2 linked regions of the Homo sapiens genome follow. Each later gene encodes a partner of the first gene's protein in a complex. Each region holds a gene or a part of one and is shown in the gene's direction. Other genes may lie near its edges.

Region 1 (8,205 bases):
AAACTATGAAAGTCTCAGAAGAAAGCAGAGCAGTAAATTTTTGTGACCCCGGATTTGGCTAATGCTTCTTAAGTACTGTATGCCAGTAGCATAAATGACAAAATAAAAGGTAGTTTAATTTCATTTCATGCAAATGTAAAACTTTTGTGCTTCAAAAAGGACTCCATTTAGGTTAAAAAAATCCTTATAGAATGAGAGAAAGCATTTGAAAATCGTATATCTAGTAAGGGACTGGTATCCTGAATACATAAAGAACTCTTGCAACCCAACATTATAAAGCAAAATAACCCAATTTAAATATATGCAAAGAATTCAAAAAGATGTTTCTCCAAAGTGAGACAGGTATAATACAGTGTGGTCACAAAAGAAGAAAAAAACTTTAGGCAGCAGTTTCAGGTGACTAGCAAAAGGAATCTGTTGAAATATCTGCAGAGGCTCTGGGCTGATAAGACCCTAAAAGACAGGGTATGGACCAGGCTGGCTAAGAATGAGTGGACCCAACATGGCCCTGGGTTTGGCCTCGGTTTCACCTAGGACCCTATTATACACTAATTGACATACTAAACGCACACACACCAGCGTCTTGGCAATTCAGAGAACACCAATATTTGGTGTAAAAATGGGTGGCACCACAGTTCTGAGCAGTCTCCACCTTCTTTTAGGAATTTTCATGAATATTCCACCCCTTGTTAAAGAAACCCAGAAAGGTGGCAGCCCTAAACCCCCTTGCACCTGCCTCTCTCTTGAGTTCCCCTGCATTCCCTTTACATGAGTGTGTACTTTCCCTTTTACAAAAAAATCTCCGTCCTTTCTCTATTTTCCTACTGGTCCTAGAATTCATTTCCCCAGGCGGTGTCAAGAGCCCGACACCGGCTGGGGTCGAGGTCTCATCAGAGTTTGGGGACCACCGGTTGCCCACTGGCATCGGAAGAAGAATGCAAATGGCAGTGAGCCCAGGAAAAGGTGCTCAGTGTCCACAGACCTCAGGGAAATGCCAACAGCACCCACAAGGGGACGCCTCACCCCGCTGGAATGGGTGACCCCAAACACTGTGAGGCTGGAGGGGGTGGGGCCTGCGTTCCTTACAAGGCAGAGAGCAGGAGACTGAGAGTTGGTGGAGTGTAGGGCTGTTCCTGTGTCATCCTCTTCCCATTTTCCTGGCGGAGGTTTCTCTTTGTTCTCTGGCCCTACCTGCTTCCTTCCTCTCCCTTTCTCTGGTTCTCCCTCCCGTCCTTCATTTCCAACCATCCCAAGGTTTTCTCTGCCTCAAGACGTCCATGCTCGGGGCCCCCAGCCCAGTGGAGAAACCAGGAGCCCTGGACCGCGAGCGGCGGGGTCGGGGAGGCGACAACGGGAAGCCCCTGTTGGATCCTGGGCACTCAGGACCTAGTGCGCCATGGGCGCCCTCCCGCAGCAGCCCCAGGGCAAGGAGGATGGGGGTCCTCGTGGGGGCCACACTGTCGGATCCCCAGGGATCCGAGCGGGACTGTGACGTCTCCACACTGAGCCGGTGGCAAAGTCGCCGCGAGGATGAAGGAGGAACCTCGTGCTCTTCACCCCACCAGGCCCCGCATTTCCTGTCTCCTGCCACGGTTCCTTGTCGCGACCGGCGAGTCCTCCCAGGTCTTCGAAAGGCCGTTTTGTCCGGAGGCTGTGGACCCGGAGGCCCGGGAGCATCGGCGGGCAGCGTGGCACCCACTCGGCGGTCTCAACCGGGCAGGACCCGGGTCCGGAGCTCGGGCGAAGCGGGCGTCCTGGGAGGAGCGCGCAGAACCCGGAGAGGACGCAGCAGGGTGAAAACTGAAACCGCATATGCGAACTGTCTCCGAAAGTCATCTGCGGTTGAAATCAGAAATCACCTATAATATCCCCTTTGTGACAACACCGTTGGGTAAATATCTAGAACCGGTGCCTCGTCACTGCAGCAGCCCCGCACGCAGCTGCCCGGGTTCCCCTCCCCGGACCCTAGTGGCCCCCAACAGATCAGGCGGGCCCACCGTGTGACCGTCCCTGGGACTCTCGGCCCCACTCTTACTTACTACTTCACCTCCACATTTTCACCTGTTTCAGAATCAAAACCCTGAAAAGTCATGTGTGAAAGGCTCCCCCGCCCCTGCCTGCGTCCACTCTCATTGGCCACACGCCAGGGAGGAAAGTTTATTTGATTCTTCTCATCTTTCCAGGGAGTCTTTATGCCGTTTCAAACGAATATAAATACATATTCTCAATTCAGACGCGGATATTTTTGACCCTTGATGAACCCTGTCACCCTGTCCTTCAGGAAGCCTGTACCAGTTTCCCCTCCCTCTACGGTGGATGTTTCACCATCCTCTGCCCAAGCTGGGTCATCACAATCACAGACAAGAGTGTCGCCAGCATTGCCATCCTATGACATGAGATGCTTTAAAGGTGCATTACTTCGCACAGCAATTCTGTGTCTGGAAATCTATTCTACACAATGAAATTGTGATTCATGCAAGCACAGTTTCTGCAGCATTTCGCTTCTCTAAAAGTCACTGGAGACCGTCTGGATCTTCAGACACAGACACTGGTTACTTTTGTTGTGATGCAGTCATTCTATGTAATGTGCAGAGATAAAAAGGAAAAAATCTGTATGTGCAGGTATTGCAAGATCTTCAAAGTGTGTTATTTTGAGATAGAATCTGTGTTCAGCAGAGTGCCTATGGGTTTATATTTGTTTTAAAAACCAGAATTGATACATAAACACGTATCTACTGTTAGTAAGGAAAACAGTATTTCCATAACTTATTGCCAGTCTCTTTATCCATTTTAGGAAAAATCGATATACTTGAAAAGCCACGGTGGCAGGAATTGGTCATCACCCACCAGGATTCTACACTGCCCTACAGGTGATCCCAACTGAGGTTGCCAGAGGAACAGGATGTGGAATGCAGTCGCGTTTCAGAGAGGAACCTAAAGTCAGAATGGACCAGGGGTCTTGCCCTGACCTCTGCCTCTTCACCCAACCCCCACCTGGTCAGGCAGTGACCCTGGAGGGGCTGGGATGATCCTGGGAGAGCAGTGAAATGGGGAGCCAATGGTGGGAGCATGGTGAACATGGAGAGCCCAGACCCCACACCATCTGGGGAGGAGCTCATGTGATGCTGGGAGCACTGGGAAGACAGGGAGCCTGGACACAGCACTCACTGCTCCTCCCATCTGGGACAGGATTGGGGTGGGTGATGAGAAAAGTTTCCTGAGTAACACAGTTCCCAATCCTGGCAGAATAACTCACCCCAGTTGCACTCACAGCCAAGACCCACTCAGCCCCTGGACCAGTCTAACACAGGGCTTGGTAAATCCAGGAGTGAATACTACTGAGGCATCTGCCAGGGCATAGGAAACAGTAACAAGAGGACGGCTCAGCTAGTGGCTCAGACTATCTTGCCCCACACTCTCCAATATTGAGTAGGGAGTAAGCCTTGAGCCCAGGAGGTTGAGGATTCAGTGAATTATGATCGTGCCACTGCACTCCAGACTGGTGACAGAGTAAGAGTCTGTCACACATGCTTACACACACAAATTAAATTGTGTGAGCAGTTGTCACACAGGGAGATCTGGATGCACTCACTGTGGACCCAGGTCTCAGCGAGCAGGAGGGTGTTCTGTATTGTGGGAACATGAGGGACACGCATGGGACCGGGCATTTGTGCCTAGCTTTGAAGGGTGGCTGGCCCTTTGCCCAGGGCGAAGAGGCCAGCAGAATGCACTAACAGTGGGGAACCACCAGGAACTTTCACTTGAACCTGCTCTGCTGAGCCCCCTGTGCCATCCGTGGACCTGGGCGAGGGAGGCTGCTGAACTGGGAGCTCAGGGCCCATCTCTCTGAGGAGCTTTCTAAATCAGCAAGTGTGTCACAGGTTGAGATTTTAGGAACGGGGTCCTCCATGTTGTCCTCGATTTTAATAAGTAGACTCTTTTGGCCAATCTGCATTGGGCAGAGCAGGAACAAGACATAATTTTTTAATATATATTTTTAAAGCTGTTTAATTTTGGTAAAAACATAGAAGATAAAATTTACCATCTTGACCAGTTGTTTAGTGCACAATATGTTGTTTTAAACCTCTGGAACCCTGCCTGCTGCTCCTGTAATAAAACCTAGCCCGGGCCAGGCGCGGTGGCTAACGCCTGTAATCCCAGCACTTTGGGAGGCCGAGACGGGTGGATCACCTAAGGTCATGAGTTTGAGACCAGCCTGGCCAACAAGATGAAACCCCATCTCTACCAAAAATACAAACAATTCGCCGGGCGTGGTGGAGGGCGTCTGTAATCCCAGCTACTCCGGAAGCTGAGGCCAGAGAATCCCTTGAACCCGGGAAGCGGCGATTGCGGTGAGCCGAGATCACGCCACTGCACTCCAGCCTGGGCAACAAGAGCGAAACTCCGTCTCTAAATAAATAAATAAATAAATAAATAAATAATAAAACCTAGCCCGGACTGTAATCACGTCCACTGGGAACTGGCGCAGTAGTGGAGGGGACGCGATCAGGCCCGTGGCTGCGCCCAGAGCATGATAAGCCAGGGACCTCGCGGCGCAGGCGGAGGGAGGGAGAGCGTCGCGGACCCAGGCGGGGACAGGGAGACGCCGCCGCCGCTGAATATTCCTCTGCAAGTTTCTTCACCTTCAATAAAAAAATGTTGTGATGATTAAATGAGTCTGTCGTGGAAGGAACCGTGTCTTGGCAGGAGCCGGGCGGACACCCAGACACCAACCCGAAGGGGGTTGGGACAAAGGGGAGGGACGCCCGGGAAGGGGAGGGACACCGTCAGGGCAGCCAATCATATTTCTAGCCGCGTGACGCTATGACCCGCTTGACGCTATGACAGCGGGAAACGGGGGGCGCGCCCGTACATAGGGAGGCTTTAAAACCTTGAGGTGATTCATCTTCCAGGCTCTCCTTCCATCAAGTCTCTCATCCCTAGCGCTCTGGGTCCTTAATGGCAGCAGCCGCCGCTACCAAGATCCTTCTGTGCCTCCCGCTTCTGCTCCTGCTGTCCGGCTGGTCCCGGGCTGGGCGAGCCGGTGAGTTCGTGGATGGAGCCTAAGCCGGGCGGGGACCAAGCCTGGAGGGCTGTGAACTGCCGCGGGTTTCAGAGGAGGGGAGGCTTCTAGAAGGACGGGGGAGATCTCCCCTAACTGCGCCCCCGTTCAGTTCCGGTCGGCGGCTCCTTCCTGCTGGGTGCAGTCCCCGAGGCTGCTTCTTGCCCGGGAAGAGGCGAAAAGGAGCGGGGTGGAAAGGAGGCTGGCAGGAGGGTGGAGGGGCCGGAGGGCTGCAGAGAGCGAGGTGGGGCGGGGATCCCTGGTGCAGCCTGGCAGTCCCACCCGCCCTCGGGAAGGAAAAACCAGAGCCCCCGGAACCGGAGCTGGGGACAGGACAGGGGTGAAGCGGGATTCCACAGGGACGCGATCACAGACACCCCCACCAGCCACAGGCCTGCTCTGCTCTCACCCGCTCTCCACCACACAAACCCTCCAGCGCCCCCAGGGCTGCGTGCCCTTGAATTTTTCCCTGCACTTTCCTGTAGACACTCACCTGCACCCAGGGGCTCAGCAGACAACCGCCACCCCTCCCCTCACCATCCACTGCCACCACCCAGGTCACGTCCTCTTACTGCCCACCTCAGCCCAGCTGGTCACCCCAGAGGTCTCCCCATCCATGAAGGGGACCTCACCACCTCCTACACCACGTCGCACCTTCTGCCTCTTGCCTGAGGACACACCCCAGCAAACACACCCCAAGCTCCCCTCAGAACCTGTGCAGGGGGGATGGGAAGCACCATTTCCTCCAGGATGACCCTGGGAACTCTGGTGAGTAGAGGCACCCACTTCTGCCCTTGGGGCCCAGACCGCCTGTTCTTCCTACGGGGGTGTCAGCGTCATAGAGAATAGTCACTGTGTAGACAGGGGTCAGCAAACTCTTTCTAGAAAGGGAGGAAGGATGCCCTGTGATCTTTGCAGGCCGTGGGTTCTCCGTCTCAGTGTCCAGTCCTGTCCCTTTGTAGAGCAACAGCAGGCAATGGCAACCTTCAAATAGGGGGGACCAGATTTGGACCCTGTCCTAGGTTGCTGATCCCAGATCAGGGGATTACAATGTCCCAGTGAATAGTGCCCCATCCCCTATGGTGTCATCTCCAAGTGATGTCTCTGATGTCAGTTGGAGAGTAGAAGGTGGTCCTACCTTGTCTGTGGCTTCTGGGTGGTGTGGATGTGATGGGAGTGGGGGTCCCATAGTTGGGGGCTTATTCTCCCCTCCTTTGTGCTGAGTGGCATCCACGGGGACCATCAGGTACCCTCCCTGAAGCCTCAGGTGTGAGCTGAGGGTGAGGGGGTGCAGCCACGTGGTGTCCTGGGGATCGGGTCCAACTGCTTGTGCAGCTTCTTGGTTCCCGGTGGCCCTGCTCCTGCCCATCCCAGAAGAACCACCTGCGTCTTCTCACTGCTGGGCCTAACTTCCTAATGACCTAGAGGGTGAGGAGCCCACCAGTAATGGGCAGCTCTGAGGCCTTCAGCAATAGGCATCCCTAAGCTTCATTCCATTCTGGTGCCTTGTCATGGGCCTTCTTTATATGCATGGCAAAAGGCCCCATCTCTGCCAAGGTGCAGTACTCTACAGGAGCCACTGCTTAATGTTGCGATTTCCTTGCTGTGAGTGGCATTGCCTTGTCTCTGAATATTCACATGGAATCTCTGTTGTGATTCTCCAATTAGACATTGTGACCACATGTACCTCTAGGGTCTTAGGGGGTCTTGGGTCATTGGGCACTTAAGGTAGGTCCAGCCTCGCTCATCATGCATGGATTGTCTATGGCTGCTTTTGAACTTCAACAGCAGAGTTGAGTAGTTACAATGGAGAATATATTCCCTGCACACCTTTACATGTTTACAAAATTGCCCTTCACAGCAAACTCTACTGGCCATAAATATCTTTGGAGAAGGCCACAAGGACTCACTGTCCTGGCTGCAGGGTTAAAGGGTCCTTCCTCACTAGAAACTGGTGTCTTCTTCTAGTCATGGGTTCAGGGTCTGAGAAGTGGCTTCATTCTGCAAATTAGGCAAAGCAGCCTCGTTCTTGATGGACTGGCTACTTTCAGCCTCCTGATTTGGTTTATCTCTGTTTCTTGTAATTATTTAAATCCAGCAGTATCTGGGGTGGGTTTGCATCTCTTTTGGACCTTGGACCCCTTTGTTCTATGAGCCATGGGCATAACTTTGTATAACTGAGGTCCCCAGCTGGCATTGTGACTTCTCTAATCATTTCCATCATTGCACCCTCCTTGCTCCTGACAGTTGACAGCCTCCACCTGGAATTTGGAATTTCAGAATTGTTCATCCCATTACTCTGGGAGCAGATTTCAGGAACAGCATCTCCTACCCCCAACCCTGGCCTTCAGCAATAGGCATCCCTAAGCTTCATTCCATTCTGGTGCCTTCTCATGGGGCCTTCTTTATATGCTGGGTAAACAGGAGTCCTCCAGGTTTCCCATAAGCACAGTGGATGGACATTGTTCTGGATTTTCACACTTAGACCCCTCTGGCATGGGCACTTCTCTGAGCCTGTGATCTCTCCCTCCACTACCTGCCTTAGACTTTCAGATTTTCCATTTCTTGCTGTGTGGACCATCTCTTTGTCCAAGGTTTCAGGAAGGCCTCCTCATAGCAGATGCATGCCATCACCAGGGGCTTTGCCAACATGTTAAATCCTGTGGCCATGATAATTAACTCTTCTTTATCCAACGGGGTTCCATCCTCACTCTGTTCAACCAGCACCAGCATCCACAGGGGTGGACCCACACCCTCTCCCACCTCCCGCAGTCCACGTGGGCTACTGCTGAAGATCCTCTGCCATCCAGGCCCTTCCTCCTCTCTTGCTAGAGAGGCCTGGCACCTTTCTAGCAAGGTCACGTGTTGACTGATGTGGGCAGAGGGGCAGTGGGACATGTCTGGGGACATGTGGTTTCTCAGCAGACAGAGACTTCCTCCTCCTCCTCCTCCTTGTCCTCATGCAAGGGGCGAGCACTCGCCTTAAACTTGTAGACACCACAGTTCTGGAGGGGGCACTCCTTCCTGGGCCAGCCCAGCCTGCCAGAGGCATCCTCTTATTGACACAGCGTGGAGGGGGGCTAACTAGGGGTCTTTTCCTCCCCACCCACCCCTCACCTGCCTTTCTCCACAGACCCTCACTC
Region 2 (8,338 bases), on another chromosome or scaffold:
TTCAGTTTGACAGCTAGTAAAAGATCATGACTTAAGATATAAAGTTATTTCCTCATATAGAAGTTAAAAAGTACAGGTCTACATGAAAGCTCCATCGTTACTCAGCACTGGGCTCCTTTTTTGCTCTTTTGCACATGGTTTGCATTCTTAGCAATATCTCACATCTAAGGTGGCTGTCAAAGCCCCAGCCATCATGACCTTGAGACTGGCAGAAAGCAGGAGAGGAAATGGGGGATGGGCAAAGAGGGCACAGCCAGTCTATTCCCATTTAGGAAGAAATTTTTGGAAGTTCTTTTTTTTTCCCCCAAGATGAAGTCACACTCTTTCGCCCAGGCTGGAGTGCAATGGCACGATCTCGGCACACTGCAACCTCCGCCTCCCAGGTTCAAGCAATTCTCACATCTCAGCCTCCCGAGTAGCTGGGACTACAGGCGCACACCACCATGCCAGGCTAATTTTTGTATTTTTAGTAGAGACGGGATTTCACCATATTGGTCAAGCTAGTCTCGAACTCCTGACCTCAGGTGATCCACCCACCTTGGCCTCCCGAAGTGCTGGAATTACAGGCGTGAGCCACTGCACCTGGCCAACCATCCTATAGTCTTCCAGCAGAGTCTCTCAAATCAGTGTCTCCAGATAGACGTGAACTCCTTGGCATGTCAAGTGAGGGGGTACTCCAGCCATTCTGGCTCCTTACATCCTTTTTGGAACAGAGGGCTAGTCACCCAGATGGGGAGTTTCAGAAAGGACCAGGTTTGAGAAGAAGGCCATAAATTTGGTTTGGGACATGTTGAGTTTGAGATGTCTTTGAGACATCCAAGAGGATATGTTGAGTAGGCCCTTGCACCCATGCATGTGGAATTTAGATAAGAGGATTGAGCTGGAAAAAGAAAACGATCAGTTCTCAGTGTATAGGTGGTAAGTGAAGCCATGGGTGCGAATGACAGGAGAGAATGCCCAGGGAGAGAATGCTGAATGAAAGAAGAGGTTATAGGACCCAGTCTTAAGGAACATCAACTCATTTCTCACATTCAAAAAAAAAAAAAAAAAATCAGTCCACCTCCCTTCATACATTGAACATCACCCATGGGATCAGTGACCTTCAGCCAAAATCCTAAAGCTTTTTGTGCCACCCAAGGTTGAGTGACAAGGCTGCAGTCTTCCTATTGTCCCATCCTGCTCTCACCCCTGCAGGAGGCCAGTGTAAGTATCTGTTCCTAAGTGTTTTTCCTAACACTAGTGAGAAACCTGTGGGAACTCCAGGGAAGTAGGAGTGTCCACCAGCCATTCCCTGTCTCTAGGAAGCTTGTGGAGTGAATACCTTCTGTGCAAAAGCCTCTAGGTCCAAGTTGAGATCATCCACTGAGCTGGGCCAGGGCCCAGTCCTCTATTAACTTTTGGGGTTTTTCTGGGTTGCTTATGACCTTGCTGCACATAGAAGACATAATCTCTGTCCTCTTGTGGCTTCTCTCCTTCCTTCCTTTAGAGTAGCAAGGTTCTATCTACCTCCTGTCTGACTGTGGCTGAGCCATCTCTTGGGCTGCGGCCCATGATCCCAATAGCTTTGCTGTGCAGGGCTTCTCAGCTCCCAGGATCACCCCCCTTCCTTCCATGGTGAACGATGAGAAGCTAGACTGGCTTGGTTGCCGTCAACATGTCAATAAATCTCTTAGTAGCCCAGGCACATGATGCGAAGATTGTGGGGAGCCTGCCTTGAGAGAGGGATTTACAGCCCTCTAGAGAAGTAGAATTGTTTCTGAGCCTATGGGGAGCCTTCAGTTTGGCTGCTATGAGCCCCAGCCCTGCCTGGAAAAGTCTAGTGTCAGCTGAGACCCCAGGACTACTTCCTAGTTGGGACAATAACCTTTTCTCCTGCCGAACCACAGGGGCTTGGCTGGCCTTCAGAACCATCATCTCCAGCTGACTGTTTTTTGTTTCTTTGTTTTTTTAAAAAAACTTATGGGGGTTTCAAACGTACAACAAATATAGAAAGAAAAATATCCCAGGTTCTCATCATACAGCTTAAAAAATCATCAAAATAGTACCAAGATTGTATCATCTACCCACCACATATTTTTAGTGGAAAGACATTTATGATAACTCTTGAAAGAAAGAGTAGACTATAAAACACCATATTCAATATGGTCACTTTTTAAAAAAATGATAATCTTCAGATTCACCATTTGATTATAGTGTTGCATTAAAGTTAAACCGTGGTTTATGGCAGCCCAGAGCCTAGCTGTCTGGTTTTTGAGGCCACACAGTGCCTTTGGAGGTGGGAGGAAGATCTGGAGCCAACTCTAAGTCAAGGAGCCCAGCTTTCAGTCTCCAAGCTACAGCGTGGCTTCTGATATTTGCACGGACTTGTCATAGGGTGGACATCCTGACACACTTCGGAAAGGAGGCACCACAGCTCAGAAAAAGTTTCCTTAGAAGGCTTACACTGTAGCAACCCCAGGAGTGCACAGAACTTGACACTGAACAGCATGGCAGAGTAGGGAAAATACAGAACTGTGCTATGATGTCATCTTGTTTGTTCATTCATTCACACATTACTGAGCACCTACTATGTGACAGTCACCTTGCTTAGGCAACAGAAATACTAAGGTGACCATGAGCTCTTCCAGGAGCAGACACAGACACAGGTAATGGAAACAATGTGATGAGAGATGTAGCAGAAGTACATGAAGCCTGTAGACCACTAGAGGAGGAGAAGGTAAGTCTTCACTAGAGGTGGCTGGGTCCTGAATGATGGAGATGGGCAATTTCAAAAGGAAAACAGAGAAGTACAAAATAGTCATAATGATGGCAGCTACCTTTAAAAAAGTATTATTTTGAGGTTTGATAGTGTAGACTATAGTCCTAGCTCCATCACTCATTGTAATCTTTATTATCTTAGTTTATGTACTTCTTAATAATAACACTCAAGCAACCCTATCACTTAGGCACTATTATCTACATTTACATATTAGTGCCTAGGTGACAGGGTTGAGTGTTACTATTAAGCACTTGCTACATTCCATATCCTACATGTACATAATTTCTCATCTTAACAACAACCTTGAAAGTAGGTTTCTTCATTATACAAATGAAGAAAAGTGACACTTGGGTTGATCATGCTCATATGGATTAAAGGCTGGCATAGGGATTTGGACTCCTGTCTTTCTGACATCTAAGCCCATGGCCTTCCTAATATTTCGTGTCTAATGGGGCAGGAACACTGAATGCAGGCAGAATGAAGGCATAATGAGATAAAGACATCTTTCTGACATTTCCTTTCTGGAAATGTCTGGTTGGTTGGCGCATATCTTGGCAGACCTGCCTGACACCAAATTGGCTCTTTCTAGAAGTGTGGTCATGAGTGTCACCAAGAGACTGTTCATGAAATCCTTCATGAATGTGTTTCCCATAGGGCAGGTGGAAAAACTAAAGCATGACTTTAACTTTGGAACTCCGAAAAAGTCAATAAAAAGACAAGCCAGTAAACAAAGGGGTGAGGGTGCAGAAGACTTTAACAGACCTTTCACAAAAAAATAAAAATTAAATTAAAAAATAAATGGCAAATAAGCACATGAACAGATGCTTAACATTTTTAGTTACCAGGGAAATGCAAATTAAAACCACAATGAGCAAACACTACATACATACCCAAGTGGTCAAAACTAAAAAGTACAAAAAATTAGAAACTTCAAATGCTGACCAGGATGTGGTACAATGGAGACTCATAGTTTATGGAAACATAAAATGATACATTTTGGAGAAAGGTCTGACAGTTTCTTATAAAATTAAACATACACCTGCTCTCTGACCCAGCAATTCCACTCTTAAATACCTGGCCAAAGGATATGAGAAATATACGTCTACAAAGGAGCTTGCACAGACAGCAGCCTTGTTAATAATAACCAAAAACTTTAAAAGTGCCCATCAAGAGTTGAATGGATAAATTAATAATACTACGCAGTAATAAAAAGAATTGTGGATACATGCAAGAACATGGATGATTCTCAAAAACATTCTTCCCATGAGAAAAAAAAAAGCCTTACACAGTATACATACTATATGATTTCATTTATATTTAGTTCTGGAACAGATTAATCTATTGTGGGAAAAAATCAGGGTACTAACTGCCTCTGGAAGGTGATAGAGGAGCAGGGATTGACTAGGAAAGGGTATTGCTAATTTTCTGGGGTTTTAGGAATGTTCTGTATCATGATAGGAGTTCGGGTTACATAGGTGTGTGCATTTGTCAAAACTCAGTGAATGTGTACTTTGGATTTGTGCATTTCACTGTATGTGAATTTTACATCAAAATGCAATCGAATACTGAACTCTAGTTAATTATATGCATGCTTAACTACTTAAAGGAAAGTGTACTAATGTCTGCAATTTACTTTGAAGTGCACCAAAACACAAGATGGAATGATGGATGTATAGACAAATATGTGGTAAAGTACAAGTATAGTATAATGTAAATAGTAGAATCTAGGTGGTGGAAAATAGGTTTATTGTAACAGGTGCTCATTCTTTCAATTTTGTTTGAACATTTTCGTAATAAAAGAACCACTTATTTGGGGGTTTTGCAGCAAATGGAGACACTAGAAGCTAAGAGGGGCAGGAGGTTCCTCTTACTTTGGGAAATGCAAATTAAAACCACAATGGTTTTCCCAAAAGTAATTGATCTTTTTCAGTCAATGTTTCCTCAACTATCAAATGGGTAAAATGGCAGTGAAGGAGCTTCATATTATTAAGCATTTCCTGGTGGGTGGAATACGCCATGAACTAGGTGCGGCCTCAAGCTGGTTACTCGCCCTGCCTACTCCCTCTCGTGTCCTCCCAGTACCCCCTTAGACCCACCAGCTCTGAGGGAATCTTCGCGACCTGCGCAGGCGGTCGCTCTGATAACCGCATCCCGGTTTCCGGGACGACAGCGGAAGTCACTTCTCACACGCCTTTCTTATTGGATACCGGCTTTTCATGGGGCCGAGCGCCGCTGGGTAGGCGGAAGTAGCCGCAGGCATGGCGGCGGCTATGCCGCTTGCTCTGCTCGTCCTGTTGCTCCTGGGGCCCGGCGGCTGGTGCCTTGCAGAACCCCCACGCGACAGCCTGCGGGAGGAACTTGTCATCACCCCGCTGCCTTCCGGGGACGTAGCCGCCACATTCCAGTTCCGCACGCGCTGGGATTCGGAGCTTCAGCGGGAAGGAGGTGAGGGCGCGAGATCTGACCAGGGAAAGATTTCCGTAGTGCCTGCTGGCTGGCCGGCCGTGGGATGAAGGCAAACTTTGGGGGCGGGGCCTAATTCCTGGGTAGAGTTCGGGATCCTGGGTGTGGACCCCGACGAGGTGGGGATCGTCACTCACCTGCTCCCGTTTCCCCAGTGTCCCATTACAGGCTCTTTCCCAAAGCCCTGGGGCAGCTGATCTCCAAGTATTCTCTACGGGAGCTGCACCTGTCATTCACACAAGGCTTTTGGAGGACCCGATACTGGGGGCCACCCTTCCTGCAGGCCCCATCAGGTGCAGAGCTGTGGGTCTGGTTCCAAGACACTGTCACTGAGTGAGTGCACACCTTGGGCCCTGTTGCAGGCCATGGAGGGAATGTGGCTGGGAGAGTGTTGTCATCCTGCCACTGCTCTTGGGGACAGCACTTCCAGTAGGCAGCGATTCCATGGGGGTAGAGCTGGCATTGGAAGTAAGAAATGTTACCACAGATGAATAAACTTCCCAATCCTAAAACTTTCAGACCTGAGGTAGCACATGCATATCCCTGGAGAGGCAAATAGCAAACAATTAATGCTTATTTGGAGGTAAGGCAGTAGAAAACTGGCAACTGGATAACCTTTTAAAAGGCATTCATTAATATTTTTTAAATGATAATAAATACCACGAAAGCCAACCATAACATATCTGTGGGTTACAACTGGCCAACAGGATGCTACATCACAGTGTTAGAGGAACTGCTTTTGTTTGGGAGGGGGCAGGTCTAGTTACTGTGCCTACTACAAACCGCTATTTCCCAGTGGCTGCTGTGGCTATCCTGTTTAGAATAGAACCTTTCTGTGCAGTGGTTGCAAACAGGTCTACATGGGCCACACAGGTAAGGAATGAATAAAGGTATTTTTAAAATTGACAAACACAGGAATGAGAAATATATCTCATTTTCCTCTTAATCCCACTATAAGAAATCAATAGTGCAAGTATGATATAACAAGTTTTAGGGCAATAAAAAGGAGCAGCAGGAATTGTGGCAGGCTAGAGAGTTTGTGTGACATTCTAACGAGGACAGCTCTGCCACTCAGCTTCTATGGATTGTTGCCATGTGGGAATAGAGGCCTAATGTGGTCAGAGTCAAATGTTTCTAAAAATTTTTTGTAGAAACAAGGTCTCACTATATTGCCCAGGCTGGTCTCGAACTCCTGGGTTCAAGCGATCCTCCTGCCTCAGCCTCCCAAAGTGTTGGGATTACAGGCAAGAGCCACCACACCTGGCCTCATTTTTCAAGAGATACCAGAAATCTGGAATTTAATGTGAAAATTGGCAAATTCAAATATCAGCAAGTAATTTAAAAATTTTTTGAGTGCTGTGCGGGTCAATGTTGTGCATACCAAATGAAGCATGTTTATGGTTTGAGTAGAGCTTTCCGGCTTCAAGTTTGCCATTTTTATTTGAGGCTTAAGGATTGGAGCAGTTGAAAAGCTCTGAACATAGAATTATCAAAAGCTCCTGGACAACACTAAGGAATAAGGAATAAGCAGTAACTCCCCAGCTTGCCAAGACTTTCTCTCTTGCCTCAACTCTGGCTCCCCTACCCTTTCCTGTCTACTCTGCTGTCACTGTCTTCCCTCAGCCCGTAATTGCCTGAAATGTGGAGCAAATGCTTAGAATTCTTTCTAGTGCTTATTAAGTTTTATGCTTTCTCTATTACTGAGAGCAAATCTCTTTTGATATTTCTCCAAGAAAAGAACATTAATTTAATTTGATGTTTTTATGAAATCCTAGAACAGTTGTTTTTCCCATGTTCAGTGAGCTTTTTTGGATATAAGACTTCTCACCATGATAGTAGAATCAGGACTTACCTTTATTCCCAGAGTATACACAGGGTAGTATGCATTGTTTTGCCCAGCCCAGCACATTCAAGGAAGATCAGTGAGCTCATTTCAGCTCTGATACATGAGGCGCTTTCCATGGTGTCAGGGGAAGTACATAGATGACCCAGACTGGTCCTTGTCCTCAAGTTGCTTACAGCCTAGTTAGGGAGAAAAGGTGGTCAGGACACGATGCTGCTGCCACCTAGCCATCTCCCAGGAGGGACCTAGTAAGATGCTTGGATGGTCAGAACCGTGACTGCACAGAGGAGACTGTGCTTAAGGAGGGCAGGAAAGGCTTCGTGGAGGGGAGGTAAGCACTGGAGCCGGATCATGAAGGTAGGCAGAAAGAAGTTAGCAAAGGCTTGCAAGGAAGGAAGAATCACCTGAGCAGAGACCCATGGGGATGCAGAGATGTCCAGAGGAGAGTGAGGAAGAAGGGGCTGAGTAGGATGAGACCCAGCAAGTGGGCTGGCTGGGGGCAGCAATGTTCCAGCTCCATCAACTGGCCCGTCTAATAGTTAAGAATACAGCCTCCTCCTATCATAGGTTTAGCAGCCAGCTGTGGACTTTGAAAGAGGGAGCAGAGGTAGCCCCAGGACAGTGAGTGGATTTGTGTCTCTATCCAGTGTGGATAAATCTTGGAAGGAGCTCAGTAATGTCCTCTCAGGGATCTTCTGCGCCTCTCTCAACTTCATCGACTCCACCAACACAGTCACTCCCACTGCCTCCTTCAAACCCCTGGGTCTGGCCAATGGTGAGATAACCCCTACAGCCCTTTCCTTCTTCCTCTTACCTCCTGCCCAAACCTTTGCCTCCTTTTCCCTCAGTTTCCTGCTTCCTCAGCCTGGGCTAGATCCTAAGTCCCCTGTGTGTGCAGGCCCCCAATACTGTGCCATCTCTGCATGCCTTTTCCCAAGGAGAGAAGGGAGTCCTACTCCCAGTTGGGACTGTCCAGACTGTGGTGCTAGAGGTGGTGTGGGGAGCAGGAGGGTCATTCCCATCTCTGGAATGTGGATCCCGAGGGGTCAGAGCCCAAGGCCCACCCCAGACAGACCTCTGTCTCCCTCAGACACTGACCACTACTTTCTGCGCTATGCTGTGCTGCCGCGGGAGGTGGTCTGCACCGAAAACCTCACCCCCTGGAAGAAGCTCTTGCCCTGTAGTTCCAAGGTGAGGCCGCAGAGCCTGGCAGCCGGGGGCGGGGGGTGTATAGAGAACCTGCGCCCCATGCCAAGTGCTCCATACAGGGCTTC

Evidence for each region.
Region 2: the proteins of ULBP2 (region 1) and PIGT are in contact, whole or in part, in a cryo-EM structure (PDB 8IMY), measured with the Homo sapiens proteins. Residues at the interface, in NP_079493.1 of Homo sapiens: Leu222, Arg223, Ala224, Thr225, Ala226, Leu229, Ile230, Cys233, Ile237, Phe241, Ile242, Gly245; in NP_057021.2 of Homo sapiens: Trp453, Ser523, Pro525, Tyr526, Asn527, Cys530, Leu531, Thr534, Ala537, Val538, Gly541, Ser542, Asn545, Arg549.

The regions. Positions count from the first base shown.
Region 1 is NC_000006.12:149,937,114-149,945,318, forward strand, and holds the start of ULBP2 (UL16-binding protein 2 preproprotein), read left to right. Parts: upstream 1-4,900; 5' UTR 4,901-4,959; coding exon 4,960-5,044; intron 5,045-8,195; coding exon 8,196-8,205. UniProt on the Homo sapiens protein: Binds and activates the KLRK1/NKG2D receptor, mediating natural killer cell cytotoxicity.
Region 2 is NC_000020.11:45,411,141-45,419,478, forward strand, and holds the start of PIGT (GPI-anchor transamidase component PIGT isoform 1 precursor), read left to right. Parts: upstream 1-5,000; 5' UTR 5,001-5,016; coding exon 5,017-5,203; exon of another isoform or gene 5,204-5,376; coding exon 5,377-5,554; exon of another isoform or gene 5,555-5,677; intron 5,678-7,073; exon of another isoform or gene 7,074-7,243; intron 7,244-7,711; coding exon 7,712-7,839; intron 7,840-8,154; coding exon 8,155-8,255; intron 8,256-8,332; exon of another isoform or gene 8,333-8,338. UniProt on the Homo sapiens protein: Component of the glycosylphosphatidylinositol-anchor (GPI-anchor) transamidase (GPI-T) complex that catalyzes the formation of the linkage between a proprotein and a GPI-anchor and participates in GPI anchored protein biosynthesis.